2 separate regions of the Homo sapiens genome follow, and region 1 is linked to region 2. The links come from fine-mapping of genetic effects on plasma protein levels. A gene starts in region 2. The other region holds a variant in brackets. All regions are shown on one strand. Distances are between the middles of the regions.

What was found. PIP is the posterior inclusion probability: the model's chance that the variant is causal. The UK Biobank Pharma Proteomics Project read protein levels with antibody pairs (Olink). The fine-mapping took linkage between variants from a reference panel, not from the people measured, so its PIPs are less certain.
Region 1: its variant is fine-mapped to the plasma level of the MAP2 protein (UK Biobank, PIP above 0.99).

Annotation. Positions count from the first base shown.
Region 1 is chr2:209,491,414-209,500,397 of GRCh38, reverse strand. The region is part of intron 1 of MAP2 (microtubule associated protein 2); the gene reads right to left. Among named protein-coding and RNA genes, the nearest start is that of MAP2, 72 kb to the right of the region's middle. RefSeq lists an enhancer at 4,220-5,419. The variant C/G (reference allele first, on the strand shown) is at 4,255.
Region 2 is chr2:209,419,959-209,428,942 of GRCh38, reverse strand. It overlaps MAP2 (microtubule associated protein 2), which reads right to left and starts at 4,896. Exons shown (of 16, transcript NM_001375505.1): 1 at 4,667-4,896. RefSeq lists a silencer at 4,826-5,215.

The DNA.
Region 1 (8,984 bases), 71 kb before region 2:
AAGTAACAGAAGAATCAAAGCCCAGGGGGTGTTTGGAAAAATACCTAGCCTGGAGTATGACCCATAAGAAGAGCAATAATTGGGTGAAAAGCTAAGTTGGCTCTATATAGGAAGTAATGACCTTGAATGACAATCTGAGGAGGCTATTCAATTAAACATATTTAATTTTGTAGGTGAAAGTGGACCACTGAAGGTTTTAAATTCAAGAATGGCATAATTAGGAAATTTAATCTGGCAATATTATGTAGATTGGATCAGAGAGGGGAGTGCTTAAAGAAGTGTTCAAAAAAGTGGCTCCTTCAGAAGTCCAGGTGAATGGTAATGAAGACACAATTCAGGTGGAGACAGTGTCCATATAAAGGAGAGTGTTACAACTATTGCATGGATATGTGTATTAGTCTGCTGAGACTGTGATATAGTTCTGATGTTTGTCTCCACCCAAATCTCATGTTGAATTTTATTCCCTATTGTTGGAGGTGGGGCCTGGAGGGAGGTGACTGGATAATGGGGGCAGAGCTCTCATGGCTTGGTGCTGTCTTCATGATAGTGAGTTCTCACAAAATCCAGTCACTTAAAAGTGTGTGCCACCTCCTCCCGGCATTCTCCCTCTCCTTTTCCTCCCCACCCCCTGTCTCTCTTTCTGGCTTGCTCCTGCTTTCACCATGTGAAGTGCCTGCTCCTGTGTTGCTCTCCACCATGAGTAAAAGCCCCCTGAGGCCTCCCCAGAAGCTGATGCCGGCACTGTGTTTCCTGTATGGATTGCAGAACCATGAGCCTATTAAACTTATTTTTTTAATAAATTACCCAGTCTTGGGTATTTCTTTATAGCAATGTAAGAACAGCCTAATACATTGAACTGAAGAGTGGGGTGTTGCTATAAAGATACATGGAAATGTGAAAGCAGCTTTGGAACTGGGTAATGAGCTGAGGTTGGAAGAGTCTGGATGGCTCAGAAGAAGACAGAAAGATGAGGGAAAGTTTGGAATTTTTTAGAGACTAGTTAAATTGTTGTGACCAAAATGCTGATAGTGATATGGACAGCAAAATCCAGGCTGATGAGGTCTCTGATGGAAATGAGGAACTTACTGGGAACTGGGGCAAAGGTCACATGTTTTATGTGTTAGCAAAGAGCTTGGCTGGATTGTGTCCATACCCTAGGGGTCTTTGGAAGTTTGAGCTTCATGGTGACTATACAGCATATCTGGCAGATGAAATTTCTGAGCAGCAATACATTCAAGAGGAGGCCTGGCTGTTTCTAATAACCTACACTCAGAAGCAGGAGCAAATAAAAGATTAAGAATTGGAATTTATATTTAAAAGGGAAGCACAGCATAAAAGTTTAGAAAATTTTTCATCTAACCATGTGGCAGAGAAAGAAAAAGCTTTTTTTGAGAGAGGAATTCAAGCAGGCTGTGGAACAACCACTTGCTAGAGAAATTTGCATAATGAAACCCCACCAAACACTCACAGCCAAGATAATGGGAAAAAGGCCTTGAAGGCATTTCAGAGACCTTCATGGCAGCCCCTCCCATCATAGGCCCAGAGGCCTATGAGGGAAGAATGTTTTTGTGGGCCAGGTCCAGGGCCCCATTGCCTGGCACAGCCTTAGGATACTGTACTGCACTGGAAGCTCTGGCTGCAGCCTGTGCTCAAAGGACCCCAGACACTGTCATACCACTGCTCTGGAGAGCACAAACTGCTGTAAGTCTTGGCAGCCTCCATGTGTTGTTAAGCCTGCGGGTGCACAGAGTGCAAGAGTGAATGAGGCTTGGCACCTTCCACCTAGATTTCAAAGGATGTGTAGAAAAGCCTGGATGCCCAGGCAGAAGCCTGCTGCAGGGGCAGAGCCCCAACAGAGAACCTCTACTAGGGTAGTGCCAAGAGGAAATGTGAAGTTGGAACCCTCACATCTGGTCTCCACTGGGGCATTCCTTAGTGGAGTTGTGAGAAGGGGGTCACCACCCTCCAGACCTCAGACCAGCAGCTTGTATCCTGCACCTGGAAAAGCCACAGGCACTCAACAACCTGTGAGAGCATCTGAGGGGTATGGGGAGGATGCACCCTGCAAAGCTAAAAGGGCAGAGCTAACCAAGGCCTTAGGAGCCCCCTCATTGTACCAGTGTGCTGTGGATGTAAGACATGGAGTCAAAAGATATTATTTTGGAGCTTTAAAGTTTAATAACTGTCCCTGCTAGGTTTTGAACTTGCATGGGGCCTTTAGCCCCTTTCCTTTGGCCAATTTCTTCCTTTTGGAATATCAATGTTTACCCAGTGCCTATACCCCCATTGTATATTGGGAGTAAATAACTCTTTTTGATTTTACATGCTTGTAGATTGAAGGGATTTGCCTTGTTTCAAATGAGGCTTTGTACTTTTGAATTAATGCTGGAATGAGTTAAGACATTGGGGAACCATTGGGAAAGCATGACTGTATTTTGCAATGTGAGAAGGACATGAAATTTGGAAAGGACCAGATGCAGGATGATATAGTTTTCATATTTGTCGCCACCCAATTCTCATGTTGAATTGTAATCCCCAGTGCTGGAGGTGGGGCCTAGTAGGAGGGGTTTGGATCATGGAGGTGATCCCTTATGGCTTGGTGCTGTTTTGTGATAGTGAGTTTTCATGAGATCTGGTCATTTAAGAGAATGTGGAGCCTCCCATTCTACTCTCTCTTTCTCTCTTGTTCTCTCCATTGCTTGCTTCTGCTTTGACTACATGAAGTGCCCACTCCTGCTTTGCTTTCTGCCAGGAGAAAAAGCTCCCTGAGTCCTCCCCATGAGCTGATGCCAGCACTATGTTTCCTGTATAGCCCGCAGAACTGTGAGCCAATTAAACCTCTTTTCTTTGTAAATTCCAGTCCTATGTATTTCTTTATAGCAATGCAAGAGATGGCCTAATATAGTCTAACATAACAAAATGCCCTAGACATGTGGCTTACACAACAGATATTTACTTTTTCACAGTTCTGGAGGTTGGAGGGGTGAGATCACATGCCAACATGGTCAGGTTCTGGCGAGGGCTATATTCCTGGCTTGTAGACAGCCACATTCTCACTATATCCTCACATGGCGGAGAAAGAAAGACATGAAGATGGGTGGGGAAATTTAGAGAACTCTCTTTTCCTCTTCTTATGAGGCCACCAACCCTACTGGATTAGGGCCCCACTCTGATGACTTTGTTTAACCTTAATTACCTGCTACAAGCCCTATTTTTAAACAGTCACACGGGCACTTAGAACTTCAACATATGGATGGGGTGGGGCACAACTCAGTCCATAACAGTATTTACAGTCCATACAGAATTTAGGGATTAAAGCCAGTCATGGTGGCTCACACCTCTAATCCCAGCACTTTGGGAGACCAAGGCAGAAGACTGCTTGAGGCCAGGAGTTTGAAACCAGCATAAGCGACATAGAGAGACCACTACAAAAACAATTTTTTTTTTTAAATTAGCCAGGCATGGTAGTGCACACCTGTAGTCCTAGCTACTGGGGAGGCTGAAGCCAGAGGCATATGAGGTTACAGTGAGCTATGATTGCACCACTGAAATCCACCCTTGGCAACAGAGTCCCTGTCTCACACACACAAAAAAAGAATTTAAGGATTCATTGGCCAGGAAAGGCACAGGATGAAGAAAGGAGCCAAGAGAATTTTGAGAGTGTAAGAAAAACAGACTCCCAGTACATTCTTAGAAACAGGAAAGCCTGAAGGGAGATCAGGTTGCTGGGTAAAAGTAGAGGATAATGGGCTTTATTAGACACATTAAGTGTGAGTTTCTGGCAGGATAATAAAGGAAAGGTATTCATCAGGCAACTGACCTATTCATGGAGGGTATGATTTTACGTGATATGCAAAGGAATAAAAACTCAGTATCCAAACAAAACAATAAAGGAGTTAAATTTGTGGTGATATAATTAGGCAAAATATACCAATATAGGGCTATAGGGTCAGAGGTACATGTTCCAAAACATAGAATTAAGTTGTCTAGACAGCTCATATTATTGTATATTTAATCACACTTTGCCTTGACAGGTAGATATAACATTAATAGAGTGCTGGCTATGTGTAAGCCCATATTGTTCTTAATGAATGCCATACCCTGCCTGCCCAGACTGTGGGCTGCTCTGGGTCAATGACCCAGCAAATCTATGTTTGTATTCCAAGCACTTAGTGTGGTATACGGCACAAAGTCAGGAATCTATAAATGTGGAATGACTCACTCCCCAGAAAAAGAGGCTGAGTCATGAGCACT[C/G]CAACTAATTTCACCTCTAGACATTGTATTATTCATACAAAACATCATAGGAAGCGAGGCATGAGATAAGGCTCTTAATGGAATGTTCTGTACTCTGACATGTTTGCTGTAGCTGCCGTAACAATGCTGGAAAAGAAAGTTAAGGCTAAAAAGGCCAGTTACATGCTGGGAAATTGAAACTATTTCACCCATTTGCTGTCACAACACTGAACATAAAATGACTAGGTGATGCAGTAACTAGAAATAAATGTCAGTTGAAAATGAAGAACTTTCAAATGTCTAAATCATGGAATTTGTTTTATGAAGGCTAGAGTACCATTCTAATACAAAACAACAATTATAGGAAATGAGTAACAATTATAGGAAATGAGTATTAAGTGTTTAATACAACTCAATCATTCTACAAAGTTTGTCAGATGCATTATTGATTTAATCCTCACAAAGGCCAAACACAGCAGATACTATTTTTATTCCTAGGAGAAAACTAAGCTTATAAAGATTGAATATCCAGTACCTTTCTGTTTGTTAGTTTTCCTTCTGACAGTCAGGTCCCTCTTCTGCAGGTCTGCTGGAGTTTGCTGGAGGTCCACTCCAGACCCTCTTTGCCTGGGTATCACCAGCAGAGGCTGCAGGACAGTAAAGATTGCTGACTGCTCCTTCCTCTGGAAGCTTTGTCCCAGAGGGACACCCACCAGATGCCAGCCGGAGCTCTCCCGTATGAGATGTCTGTCATCCCCTACTGGGAGGTATCTCCCCGTTATGAGGCACGGGGGTCAGGGGCTCATTTGAGGAGGCAGTCTGTCCCTTAGCAGAGCTCGAGCACTGTGCTGGGAGATCTGCCGCTCTCTTCAGAGCTGGCAGGCAGGAACGTTTAAGTCGGCTGAAGCTGTACCCACATCCCCCTCTTCCCCCAGGTGCTCTGTCGCCGGGAGATGGGAGTTTTATCCACAAGCCCCTGACTAGGGCTGCTGCCTTTCTTTCAGAGATGCCCTGTCCAGAGAGGAGGAATCTACAGAGGCAGTCTGGCTACAGCAGCTTACGGCACTGTGCTGGGCTCCGCCCAGTCCAAACTTCGGGTGGCTTTGTTTACCGATGTCTTTTATTAAGGCAAAGAAATAACAAAAATCACAGATAAGGTGGAATATATACACATATATGGCCAGCATATATTATTTTTTCATCTTCTGTTTTTAAGTTTAGAGCACTGACAGATTTTCCTACCTATATAATTCTCTAAGGAGTTCTGGCATATTCAAATTCAGGCAGAAACAATAGGGGAAAACATGCTTTGAAGAAACCTGAAAACCAATGATAAATTTTTGAAATGAAAATATCTCAATCTCTTTTAGTTCTTTCTGTGTTTTCAGTGGGACAAAAACTTTGGAAGATGGCAATATTTATTTATTTGTTTTTTAAAGTGAAAGCAAGTCTATTAAGAAAGTAAAGGAATAAAGAATAGCTACTCCATAGGCATAGCAGCCCTGAGGGCTGTTGGTTGTCCATTTGTATGATTATTTCTCGATTATATCCTAACAAGGGGTAAATTATTCATGCCTCACCTTTTTAGACCATACAGGGTAACTTCATGATATTGCCATGGGATTTGTAAACTGTCATGGCGCTGGTAGGACTATAGCAGTGAGGATGACCAAAGGTCACTCTCATAACCATCTTGGTTTCAGTGGGATTTAGCTGGCTTTTTTTTTTTTTTAATTATACTTTAAGTTTTGGGATACCTGGGCAGAACATGCAGGTTTGTTACATAGGTATATATGGGCCACGGTGGTTTGCTGCACCCATCAAACAGTCATCTACATTAGGTATTTCTCCTAATGGTATCCCTCTCCTTGCCCCCAACCTCCCCAACAGGCCCCGGTGTGTGATGTTCCCTGCCCTGTGCCCATGTTCTCATTGTTCAACTCTCACTTATCAGTGAGAATGTGTGGTGTTTGGTTTTCTGTTCCTGTGTTAGTTTGCTGAGAATGATGGTTTCCAGCTTTATCCATGACCCTGCAAAGGACATGAACTCGTTCTTTTTTATAGCTGCATAATATTCCATGGTGTATGTATGCCAAATTTTCTTTATCCAGTCTAACATTGATGGGCATTTTGGTTGGTTCCAAGTCTTTGCTATTGTGAAGAGTGCTGCAATAAACATACAAGTGCATGTGTCTTTATGGTAGAATGATTTATAATCCTTTGGGTATATACCCAGTAATGGGATTGCTGGGCCAAATGGTATTCCTGGTTCTAGATCATTGAGGAATCGCCATACTGTCTTTCACAATGGTTGAACTAATTTACATTCCCACCAACAGTGTAAAAGCATTCCTATTTCTCTATGTCCTCTCCAGCATCTATTGTTTCCTGACTTTTTAATGATCACCATTCTAACTGGCATGAGATGGTATCTCATTGTGGTTTTGATTTGCTTTTCTCTAATGACCAGTGATGAGGAGCTTTTCTTCATATGTTTGTTGGCCACATAAATGTCTTACTTTGAGAAGTGTCTGTTCATATCCTTTGCCCACTTTTTGGTGGGATTGTTTTTTCTTGTGAATTTGTTTAAGTTCCTTGTAGACTCTGGATATTAGCCCTTTGTCAGATGGATAGATAGCAAAAATTTTCTCCCATTCTGTAGGTTGCCTGTTCACTCTGATGACAGTTTCTTTTGCTGTGCAGAAGCTCTTTAGTTTCATTAGATCACATTTGTCATTTGTCAATTTTGGCTTTTGTTGCCATTGCTTTTGGTGTTTTAGTCATGAAGTCTTTGCCCATGCCTATGTCCTGAATGGTATTGCCTAGGTTTTCTTCTAGGGTTTTTATGGTTTTAGGTATTATGTTTAAATCTTTAATCCATCTTGCATTAATTTTTGTATACAGTGTAACGAAGGGGTCCAGTTTCAGTTTTCTGCATATGGCTAGCGAGTTTTCCCAACACCATTTATTAAATAGGAAATCCTTTCCCCATTGCTTGTTTTTGTCACATTTGTCAAAGATCAGGTGGTTGTAGATGTGTGGCATTATTTCTGAGGCCTCTGTTCTGTTCCATTGGTCTATGTATCTGTTTTGGTACCAGTACCATAACATTTTGGTTAATGTAGCCTTGTAGTATAGTTTGAAATCAGGTAGCATGATGCCTCCAGCTTTGCTCTTTTTGCTTAGGCTATACAGGATCTTTTTTGGTTCTGTATGAAATTTAAAGTAGCTTTTTCCTAATTCTGTGAAGAAAGTCAGTGGTAGCTTGATGAGAGTAGCATTGAATCTATAAATTACATTGGGCAGTATGGCCATTTTCATGATATTGTTTCTTCCTATCCATCAGCATGGAATGTTTTTCCATTTGTGTGTGTCCTCTCCTATTTCCTTGAGCAGTGGTTTGTAGTTCTCCTTGAAGAGGTCCTTCACATCCTTGTAAGCTTTATTCCTAGGTATTTTATTCTCTTTATAGCAATTGTGAATGGGAGTTTGCTCAAGATTTGGCTCTGTGTCTGTCTATTATTGGTGTATAGGAATGCTTGTGATTTTTCCACATTAATTTTGTATCCTGAGACTTTGCTGAAGTTGCTTATCATCTTAAGGAGATTTTGGGCCTGACGATGGTGTTTTCTAAATATAGAATTATGTCATCTGCAAACAGAGATAATTTGACTTCCTCTATTCTTAAGTGAATACCCTTTATTTCTTTATCTTGCCTGACTGCTCTGGCCAGAACTTCTAATACTATGTTAAATAGGAGTGGTGAGAGAGGGCATCCTTTTCTTGTGCCAGTTTTCAAATGGAATACTTCCAGCTTTTGCCCATTCAGTGTGATACTGGCTGTGGGTTTGCCATAAATAGCTCTTATTATTTTGAGATATGTTTCATCAATACCTAGTTTATTGAGTGCTTTTAGCATGAAGGGGTTTTGAATTTTATCAAAGGCCTTTTCTGCATCCATTGAGATAATCATGTGTTTTTTGTCATTGGTTTTATGTGATGGATTACATTTATTGATTTGCATATGTTGAACCAGCCTTGCATCCAAAGGATGAAGCCAACTTGATCATAGTCGATAAGTTTTTGATGTGCTGCTGGATTTGGTTTGCCAGTATTTATTGAGGATTTTCGCATTGATGTTCATCAGGGATATTGGGCTGAAATGTTCTTGTTTAGTTGTGTCTCTGCCAGGTTTTGTTATCAGGATGATGCTGGCCTCATAAAATGAGTTAGTGAGGAGTCCCTCTTTTTTTATTGTTTGGAATAGTTTCAGAAGGAATAGTAACAGCTCCTCTTTGTACTTCTGGTATAAGTTGGCTATGAATCCATCTGATCCTGGGTTTTTTTTGGTTGGTAGCCTATTAATTACTGCCTCAATTTCAGAACTTGTTATTGATCTATTCAGGGATTCGACTTCTTCCTGATTTAGTCTTGGGAGGGTGTATGTTTCCAGAAATGTATCCATTTCTTCTAGATTGTCTAGTTTATTTGTGTAGAGGTGTTTTATAGTATTCTCTGATGGCAGTCTGTATTTCTGTGGGATCAGTGGTGATCTCCCTTTTATCAATTTTTATTGTGTCTATTTGATTCTTCTCTCTTCTTTATTGGTCTGGCTAGTGGTCTATGTATTTTGTTAATCTTTTCAAACAAACTAGCTCCTGGATTCACTGATTTTTTTGAAGGGTGTTTCATGTCTCTCTCTCCTTCATTTCTGCTCTGATCTTAGTTATTTCTTGTCTTCTGCTAGCTTT
Region 2 (8,984 bases):
AAATAAATAAATAAATAAAATAAAATAAAGTAATTCAAAGAAGGCTAATGAGGACACATTGAGGCGAGCAATTACCTATAACCTAAGGGAACCTGAATAAACTTGGATACAAACTAATCGGGAGAAATAGGGTAGTAACTTTTCTTCTGGTTTTTAAAGGCCTTTTTGAGGTACAAAGCGTTATGAAAGATTGGTATACAAGGAAAAAACTGTTGAAGCCTAGGGGATATAAAAGCCAAGTTCAAAGAAAGGACCAAGATAGGGATGGAGCCTTGAGAAGGAGGAGAGGTTAGCATAAAACTTCATGTTAAATGAGAAATATAAATATAATGAAAAATAAATTTCAATAAGAATATCAGGCTATAATTTCATTTTCTAAAGACCAATGTTTATTTTGCCAATACAAACTGAAAGAAAGGAGCAATCTAAGTAAAGAAGAAAAGAAAAGGGAAAGAGGAGAATGGAAAGAAGACAAAAAAGGAAAGAAAAAAGTCAAGGTATGTGATCTTAAAAGTAAATTATTTGCTCATTAACATAACAAAAAGCAAAAAAAAAAAAAAAGAAATTTGCCCCCTCTAGTGTGTGTTTTAACGGAAAACAAACTGTCTAAAACTTTCCCCAACTTCCACAATATAAACTTAACAGTAGACTGAAAGAGGATCCTGAGCTCTTTATTTTGTCTAACTTTCCATAGAATTTTACTGAAATGTTTAAGTAAAATGTATTACAGTTAAAGTACTACCATTCAAAGGAAAGCTTATGTCTTGAACAGGAAAGATCAAAGATTAGATTCAAAGTGTTTTTCATAAAAATTCATCTAATTGTGTTCACATCATTTTAAAATTCTGAATTCACCTAATTCACTGTAAAACTCCTTCCAATAAACATACTGTATAATTTTTATAAGGAAGCACCATGGCCTTAGTTCAAAGACATGACAGGGGAGGGATGGGGACAAAATATGTTGAAACAGAAAAACAAAACATTTATTCCTTCTTCACCCTCTTAGACAAAAAGGCTCATCTCTACCCTACATGGACAGCTTTTAATAGCTGAGAATTTGCTTTCATTCCACATCTTCCTCTACGCCCACCCACCTACCCACCCACCCAAACCTTCATACAGACTGTCTCCCTTGACTTTGGCCTTTTGTGTACTACATATTAATTTGCAGACTTTTAACTGCTTTTGGTGCCTAGAATCATTTTCTGCAATTGAAAACTGAGAATATCAAAAGTTGTTTCTCATAATGAATAAATAAATACATAAATGGTAATAAGTGCTCTCCTTAATGAAAAATAAAGGCCAAATTTGTATCAAGAGAGTAACATTACTGAAACCAAAATAGCTAGAGAACAGTAAGTCTAACATCCAAATGTCGAATTAAAAAGAATGATGTGAAGGGAGGGAAAATATGGTGAAATGATCAAAATACAGTCCTTACATGAAAAGGTCTAGATTGAGTAGATAAAGGTAATGGCAATAGTAAAGAGATAATTAAAGTAGCAAAAACACTTGATATATCTGAGAGAATCAGATATGACTCAAAGAGTTTATTAGCATCTTTAACTAATCTATAACAGAGACAAAAAAATTTGAGATTGTTTCAAAACTGTTATCTTCAGGTTCATGCATTTACTAATGACTTACCTAAAGTGACTACTTTTAGCATTAAGGAGGATAGTATTGATCTGGGGGTGGTGCTATCTTCTACTGTAACTATTATTTCAGATTCTTTATCTTAATCTGTTAAGAGGAAATTAAGTATTGAAAGGATTCAATAATCAGAGTTACCAACTTGAATACTAAAATCCCCATGTCAGTTTCATATGGTCAGTCTCAAAAGGACATCAATGAATCACTGAAGGATGCACCTATTGTCCTATAAGCAAATGTAATAATGATTTTTTAAAATGCCAACAGTGCAACTACATTTGTTAATAGCATGTCCAGTCTGTTGTCTAACTGCTAGTAAAATTCAATACAAAATATGTGTGTGTGATAAGAAAATACACAAAAATACACCAACATTTTTCTTCCTTTTCCCTTCTGATGTTTAGAAAATTTGCGAACTGGTTTAAACCAAAAGGGGTAAAGGAATGAAATTATTCCTTCAGGCTTAGAGGATTCTGTGCCAAGTTTCATTTCTGGCTACATATTTCTAACCAAGTTCAAGATCCCTGAAAAGGAATACATAAAAGAGAAAATATCCCTTTAACCTCAGTGGAATGACATTAGTAAAGGCTGCTATGGGAAGAGAAAGGCTTTTGCCCTGAGATGGGTGTGCTCCTGGTGTTTGGTTTCCACTGAGAGGATGCCTGCTCTCTCAATGAATCTGAAGTACCTACTAGGATGAGGTAATGGCTGTGCCAGTTTCACTGGGTCATGCTCTTTCAGCACATTCTTTCCCTGTCTCCTCCCTGAGAAGGTGCTGTAAACAAGTCATCCTGAGAGGTGCTGCAGAGAATGAACAATCCTAAATTCAAAATTCTTGAAAACACTGGCCCTCCTATGGCAGTATAGAAGACTAAAGCAGCCATAAAGAAACAGGTTATTTGATTAGAAAAGGGAAAAAAATAAGAGAGGAGATAAATAAAATAAAAATTAATATAACTAAAATATTATTTTATAAAAGGTAGCTCTATTTTTAAATTACTTAGATCTTCAGATGTGTGTTAAGCAATTTTCTACTTATGGTTTTAAAAAAGAAAACTTTGGACATTAAATAATATTGTAGCAAACTGTAAAATATGAAAAATTAAAATTAAATAAACCACAGATAAACAGCATGTACCACTGATCCTAAAGCCACAATGGCTCTGATAATATACAAATCATGAATGCAGATGTACACCTATGATAATCAGATGAAATTACCAGGAAATCAACATAAACATACACACACAAATATAATAATCCTTACTGAATGAGAAAAATGCCTTTTTTCTTGAAGGAAGGGTTCTTTGTGTGCATGGGGCTGGGGCTTTTGGAACATCCATGATTTGCAAATTCACAAGGATTTCTACCAAAATACACCTATTGCCCGGTTAAAGGGCTGCTTTGTGTTATATTCTGATGGAAGGCTGTAATCTTTTCCCTGGGCATAAAATTAAAAGCATTCTAAAGGGCTTCTATTTATTCAATCTATTTGACTGCCAAAAAAAATCATAATTGTCCACAGTGAAATGACATAGTGAAAGAACTATGCTTTTGAACTGGGCTGGTACCTGCAGCTCATGCATGGGACATTTTGCATAATGTGGCTCACATAGAAGGCTTTGTTCTCCATCGCCTCACTGTGGCTGCAAACCTCAATTTCAGTTTGCAATCATTTCCTTTTCTAGACTGATCATTTTAAAATAAATTATACCTTTAACATTTAAATTAGTTCCTTACCAACAGTCATCAATCCCTTTGCCTCACACCCAAAATTATATACCACCCAACAATATTTTTTTGTTTTGCACTACAGATTTTATTCACAACATAATTTCCAAACCCTCAAATACAATTTTAAAAAATCAGTCTCTTAAGTACCTATTTCCTTTTGTAACATGTATATAGTGTATTATACATTTGTGTGCATACTTGTGTGTTTAGGCATTTAAACAAAAACCCTTTACACCGGACTCAATTTTAAAGCGTCTATGTCCTGGAAGCATTGTGCTAAGAGCTTACGACAGATGGCACACAGCAATTGTCACAAACGGGCTTGTTGCTAATGAAAGCTTTTTATTTTCTGACAAAAATCCTGAAGTCCGGATGCCAGGCAGAATAACATTAATTTCCAGTTTTCAAGGATTTTTTTTCTGACTCCATCCATACCCCTCCCCCTATACACACCCAAATATACAGCTCCCCACTCCTAGCCCCCCACACACTCTTTCTTGAAATTTCCATCCTTAAACAAAAGACGAGGTGGGGGAAGGCAGGCAGCCAGCACTGCAGTCCTCCTCTCCCCACCAAAAAAGCCTTTTAAAAAGAAAAGGAAGAAAAGAATAGATGCACTGTAGATTCAGAGGTCCACCCCCAACGTTTAAAAAGAAAAACGACTGTGTGGAAGCCTAACCAGACTCATTTCTTCGTGCCCCGCCCTCCAACACCACCAGGCATTTATTTTTCATTTTCCTACAATTATAAATATCAGTCCTCCTCTCCCAGCTGTTTCTGAAGGAATTACAGAGAAACATGATTTGAAATGGACAAGGCTTCCCTCACTCACTCACTTCCCAGTGTGCAGTTCTCTGCAGCTGGATGAACAAAAAAATCCCCTACCTCGATTTCCTATTTTCCACTATCTTTGTAGAATCCACTCCCCTTCTTTCCACAGCGCAGGTAATACTGGCTTTCGATACACGTATTCTAACCTGGCGTAAGTTTTCAGTTGTTTCAAAGTGGTACCTAACAAGCTCACTCGCTCTTCTACGAAGCCAGGGCTCAGGTACCAGTAGCGTCCGGCCCCCTGCTCCGCAGTGACACCTGGAGAGGACAGGCCCGAATCTTCCGCCAGGTGCACGGCTGGCCACTCGACCAACTACCAGACTGCCTGCTGCGAGTCCCAGAGGACGAGACACAACCCCTCCCCATTCCTATCTCTTTCTACTCAGAGACCGAGGCAAAAGGAGAGGCGCCCTACATAGAGCCAGAGGTGGGGACGGTCTCTTACCTGGGCGCAGAAACTGGATGCACCCGCGGTCGCGACTGCCACCGCTCACGGACTTAGCGCCCTCCGGAGAAAAAGGAGAGGGGTAGAAGGGTTAGGGGAAGAAGGGGAGGGGGGGGAAAAAGAAGGAGAAGGAAGAGAAAGAAGCGGAAGGGAAGTAAAGGAAGAGAGGATGCTGCTGCTGCTGCTGCTGCTGCCCAGAGCCCGCGCAGCCCGAGCGCCCGCCCCAGACTGAGAGCGGCGCCCCCAGCCGGCTCCCAGCGCAGCAGCTCCGCCTCGGCCCCTCCTCCCCGCCCCGCGCAGGTCCCGCCCCGCGCAGGTCCCGCCAGACTCCGCGAGCCCGTGGGCGGCCGCGGCGGGGCTGGCGCTGCCACCGCCGCAGTGTCCGGGAGGGGGAGCACGACCGCTTCGCCTTCTGCCGCAGCCGCCGGCCGCCAGGCGGGGACCGCGAGGTGGGAGCCTCGGAGAGCCCCGCCCAGCCGCTGGCCCGGGCCTTCTCCAGAGCCCTGGTCCCCTCCCGCGACAAAGTGAGGCCAGTGCCCGGGCGGCGGGACAGGCGGGCCTTCCTCACTGGCGTCCTTGGAAAATCGGGGGCAACAGCTTTAGTCTCTCGGGAGCAACCTCCGCAGACCCCCTGCTTCCCTCCCCTGTGTCGCTATGAGGCGGGGTTGCCAGTGGCACCTCACCAGGAAAGCTCACTGGCCTCGCCTCACAAACCCAACCACAGGTGCATCCAGAAAAGACAAAGGAATGTGGGGCGCTTGAGAACATAGAACAACTCTTGTCAGCACTAAAGGAGCAATGGCTGAGGGAGTAGAGAATTCTAGACCCAGCTCTGTCACGAATTAGATTCATTCATTTATTGAGTCAACGAATGTTTATTGACACCTACTATGTGTCAGGCACTCTTCTAAGCATTAGAAACATCAGTGACAGACCTTTCCCACAACCCTAATAAGAAAGATCCCCTCCCTTTATAGTTATTACATTCTAGATAGCCAGACGTATGCTCTAGAGACAGTTCACTTAATCTAACTCTCAGTGTATTCATGTGTCATATGAGAACTAAAAATGACAGCCCAATTCTCTTATGCTTAAAAAGATAATGAATATGAAGGATCTTTGAAGAATGATACAAATACAATGAATTAGAAAGCACGGAAAGTGTTGACCTTGAAATATCACCCTTAAAAAAATTGCCTCTTAAATGCTTTTGAAAGTGAAATGACCACCTGAGAAAACAAATGATTCTTTACCATTCGTACTAAGGAGTATGAATCTTCATAATCAGAGAGCAGCATTTTATTGTAAGTAAGAAAAGTAAGATGCAACTTAGAATTACTTCGAGTGTCTATATCAAGTACTGACAAGGTGTTTTTAAGGTCAGCCAACATACTGAGGTGTGGCTTGTACAGTCTTCACAGTGCTGATGAAACAGCAGCCATAATGTGGTTCTGTCACTTAAATTAACCACAGAATCTTAGAACCTAGAACATTAGAGTTGATGTTTTAGGCAGCTGGTCTAATTTCCTCCATTTTCAGATGGAAAGAGACCCAATGGTGGGAGCCTGCAAGGATTAGAAACCATCACAGAGGAAGCTGTGAAAGCCTGCCCTCCCCAGTCACACCCAGTGCTCTGTGTCCTGCCTCCCCCGCTCTGCTTCATACCATGTGCCAGTGACGCTTGCAGTGAGTTTGGAAGTATCAAGGCACACCCAGGAGCTGGGAGGTTGGAGGAGTTGATGCTCCTCCTCGGAAGATGGCCTTACTGAGAAGGAGGTCTTAGGAGACTAGGAAATCATAGACAGTATGTGGATGGGAGGAAGGAGTAGGCATGCTACCAGAGTGTTAGCAGCTGACATTCATGACCAGGCATGCAGGCGCAGGTGCTCAATGAGAGTAATTTTCCAGGGCCAGGAGCGGTGGCTCACACCTGTAATCCCAGCAGCTCAGGAGGGAGTATCGCTTGAAGCCAGAAGTTTGAGGGTGCAGTGAGTTATGATTACACCACTGCACTCCAGCCTGGGTGACAGAGTGAGACCCTGTCTCTAAAAAACAGCAATAAAAAAGACATTATTTCTCTGATAGTTTAAAGTACAGTGTTCCTCAGCACTTTTTGTTTTTGTTTGTTTGTTTGTTTGTTTGTTTTTTCCTCCACTTTAAGATTAGCTGAGGCAGCCAAACTCTAATGGCTTTTCTCTTTGGGGAACCTGGTCCTTATATGGGAGATTGCCTCCTCTCGACACACATCTTAGAGTTCTTTCAGAAAAATAGCATCTATATGTTGTAATTCAATAGAGAGAATTTAATATGGGGAACAAATTACAAAGGATTCAAATGACTAAAAAGCCAACTAGGGGATGATGAGGCAACACGATGATAGTTACTAGCAGGAAAGTACTACCACTCTCAGGCTGGGGAGTGCTAGAGAGGAGGCTTTACCAGGAATGAGGAGCACAAGCTACATTAAAGGAACTGAGACCACAGTGGAGATGCTTACTGGGAGACAGATAATGCTGGAGGGTCCTCCAAAAGCTGAGAGTGAAAAGAAATATTGTGGCCCTCCTTTAACCTGTATTTCAAAACCCTGTCATTGGGTGAACCTAGAAGAAAGTCAGTTGACAAAGCAGCCTAAGAAATACAGTTTGCAGGAGTCAGTGCCCTGGGATGTCAAACAACTTTAGGAGGGGACTCCATATGTTTAGGCTTCTGGTTTAAGGAGGGATCTTTGTGTTGAAGTGAACTTTTTTTTTTCCCTCAGCAAAGCATCCCTTCCTTAGAGTAATGATCCTTTTCATATGATTCCCCATATGCTAGTAAAATGTGTGCCTCTCTTCTCTTTCTCAGAGGTGGACATGTGACCCTGGCTAACTCTATAGTAGAACCTGTTCTCCTAATGTATAGTGATTGATACAGGGTGGTCATATGTCCCAAATATTTCCAATCAGGCTTTTTTCCATGAGATGTGTCATATGAACAATAGTGAATCGGATGGTATAGGTATAGAGTTGTCAGTGACTGTATTTCCTTCCATGCAGAAAAGCAATGCTGAGAGATGGAGAAAGAACACTTGAAAGACTCCATGGATCCTGCTACGTCTCAAGGTAGAAATGCCATTTTTCAAGCCAATAGATTTTTGTTTCTTTTCTAAGCTTGCTGTAGTTGGATTCCTGTCATTTTCAACTGAAGAAGCCTTGACTAATACAGTGCTGGACTCCAAAAAGTAAACCACAGATAGAAAGAGCCTGCCAATATTGATTTCCACAATTACTTGTCTTGTCTTCAGGCTAAATTCTTGATTTGTATTTATTTGGCCCGGAGGATTACGTACATAAACAACCATACCCTTTTCTCAGGGACAGGACTTCTGATAGTTTCTCAGTCAGAAAACCATCAGAATAAATGTATTTCTACTGATTAGAGAAAGGTCTACTGGTATATAGGAAGTAATGAAACCTTCTCCCCAGAGAGTCAAGGAGTAGGTGAGCCTTTGAGGAGGTTGTACTGCATAGTGTTAAGAGCACCAGACTTCAAGTCAGATCTGAGGGCCCATATTTGCTGTTCCCTGCTTGTGTGACCTTGGGTACATCTCTCTACCATTTTGAACCTCAATATTTTTATTAGCAAATGAGGAGACTCAACCACATGCCACCTAAGGTCACTTTAGTTTTATAAAGCTATGAGAAATTATAGCTCAGCTGAGGATTTGCTTATTAAGTTGATGAACATTAATTAAGTGGCCCCTAGAGAAACAATGAGCAAGGTTCATACATACACAAACAATGCTGATACAATGTGCAGCCCATCATAGAAAAGATGTGGATGCAAGATGCAGGTATGACACTGAAGAGCAGACACACATAAGTCTTTTACCTTCTATGTGTGAAATGGGCTTTTTGTGTTTTGTTTTTAATTTCTTGACCTTTTCTCTATGGATGACTAGAGGCACATCTATCAAAATTTCTATCATGTTTCACAAGTTTTGACCATTGCAATGGCTTTAAAATTTAAAAATGAGCTTTGTAGTATGGTCTCCCATTTCCAATTCTATGCCTAGTTCATTGAACAGGTGGTGAAATTACCATTGACTTCTTCTGGACCATAAATGTATCATTCTGTTCAAAAATTTTGTTGAGGTATAATTTACATTCAGTTAAAAGCACAGATCAGAAATGTTCAATCTACACCTTCAGCCCCAACCCATAGAGGTAACTACACTTTTGATTATGTTTCTCTGTGGCTTCACTTTGCATATTCTTGGAATTCCTATAAAAGGATTCAGACAATATATATTATTCTACATCTGGCTTCTTTTGCACAC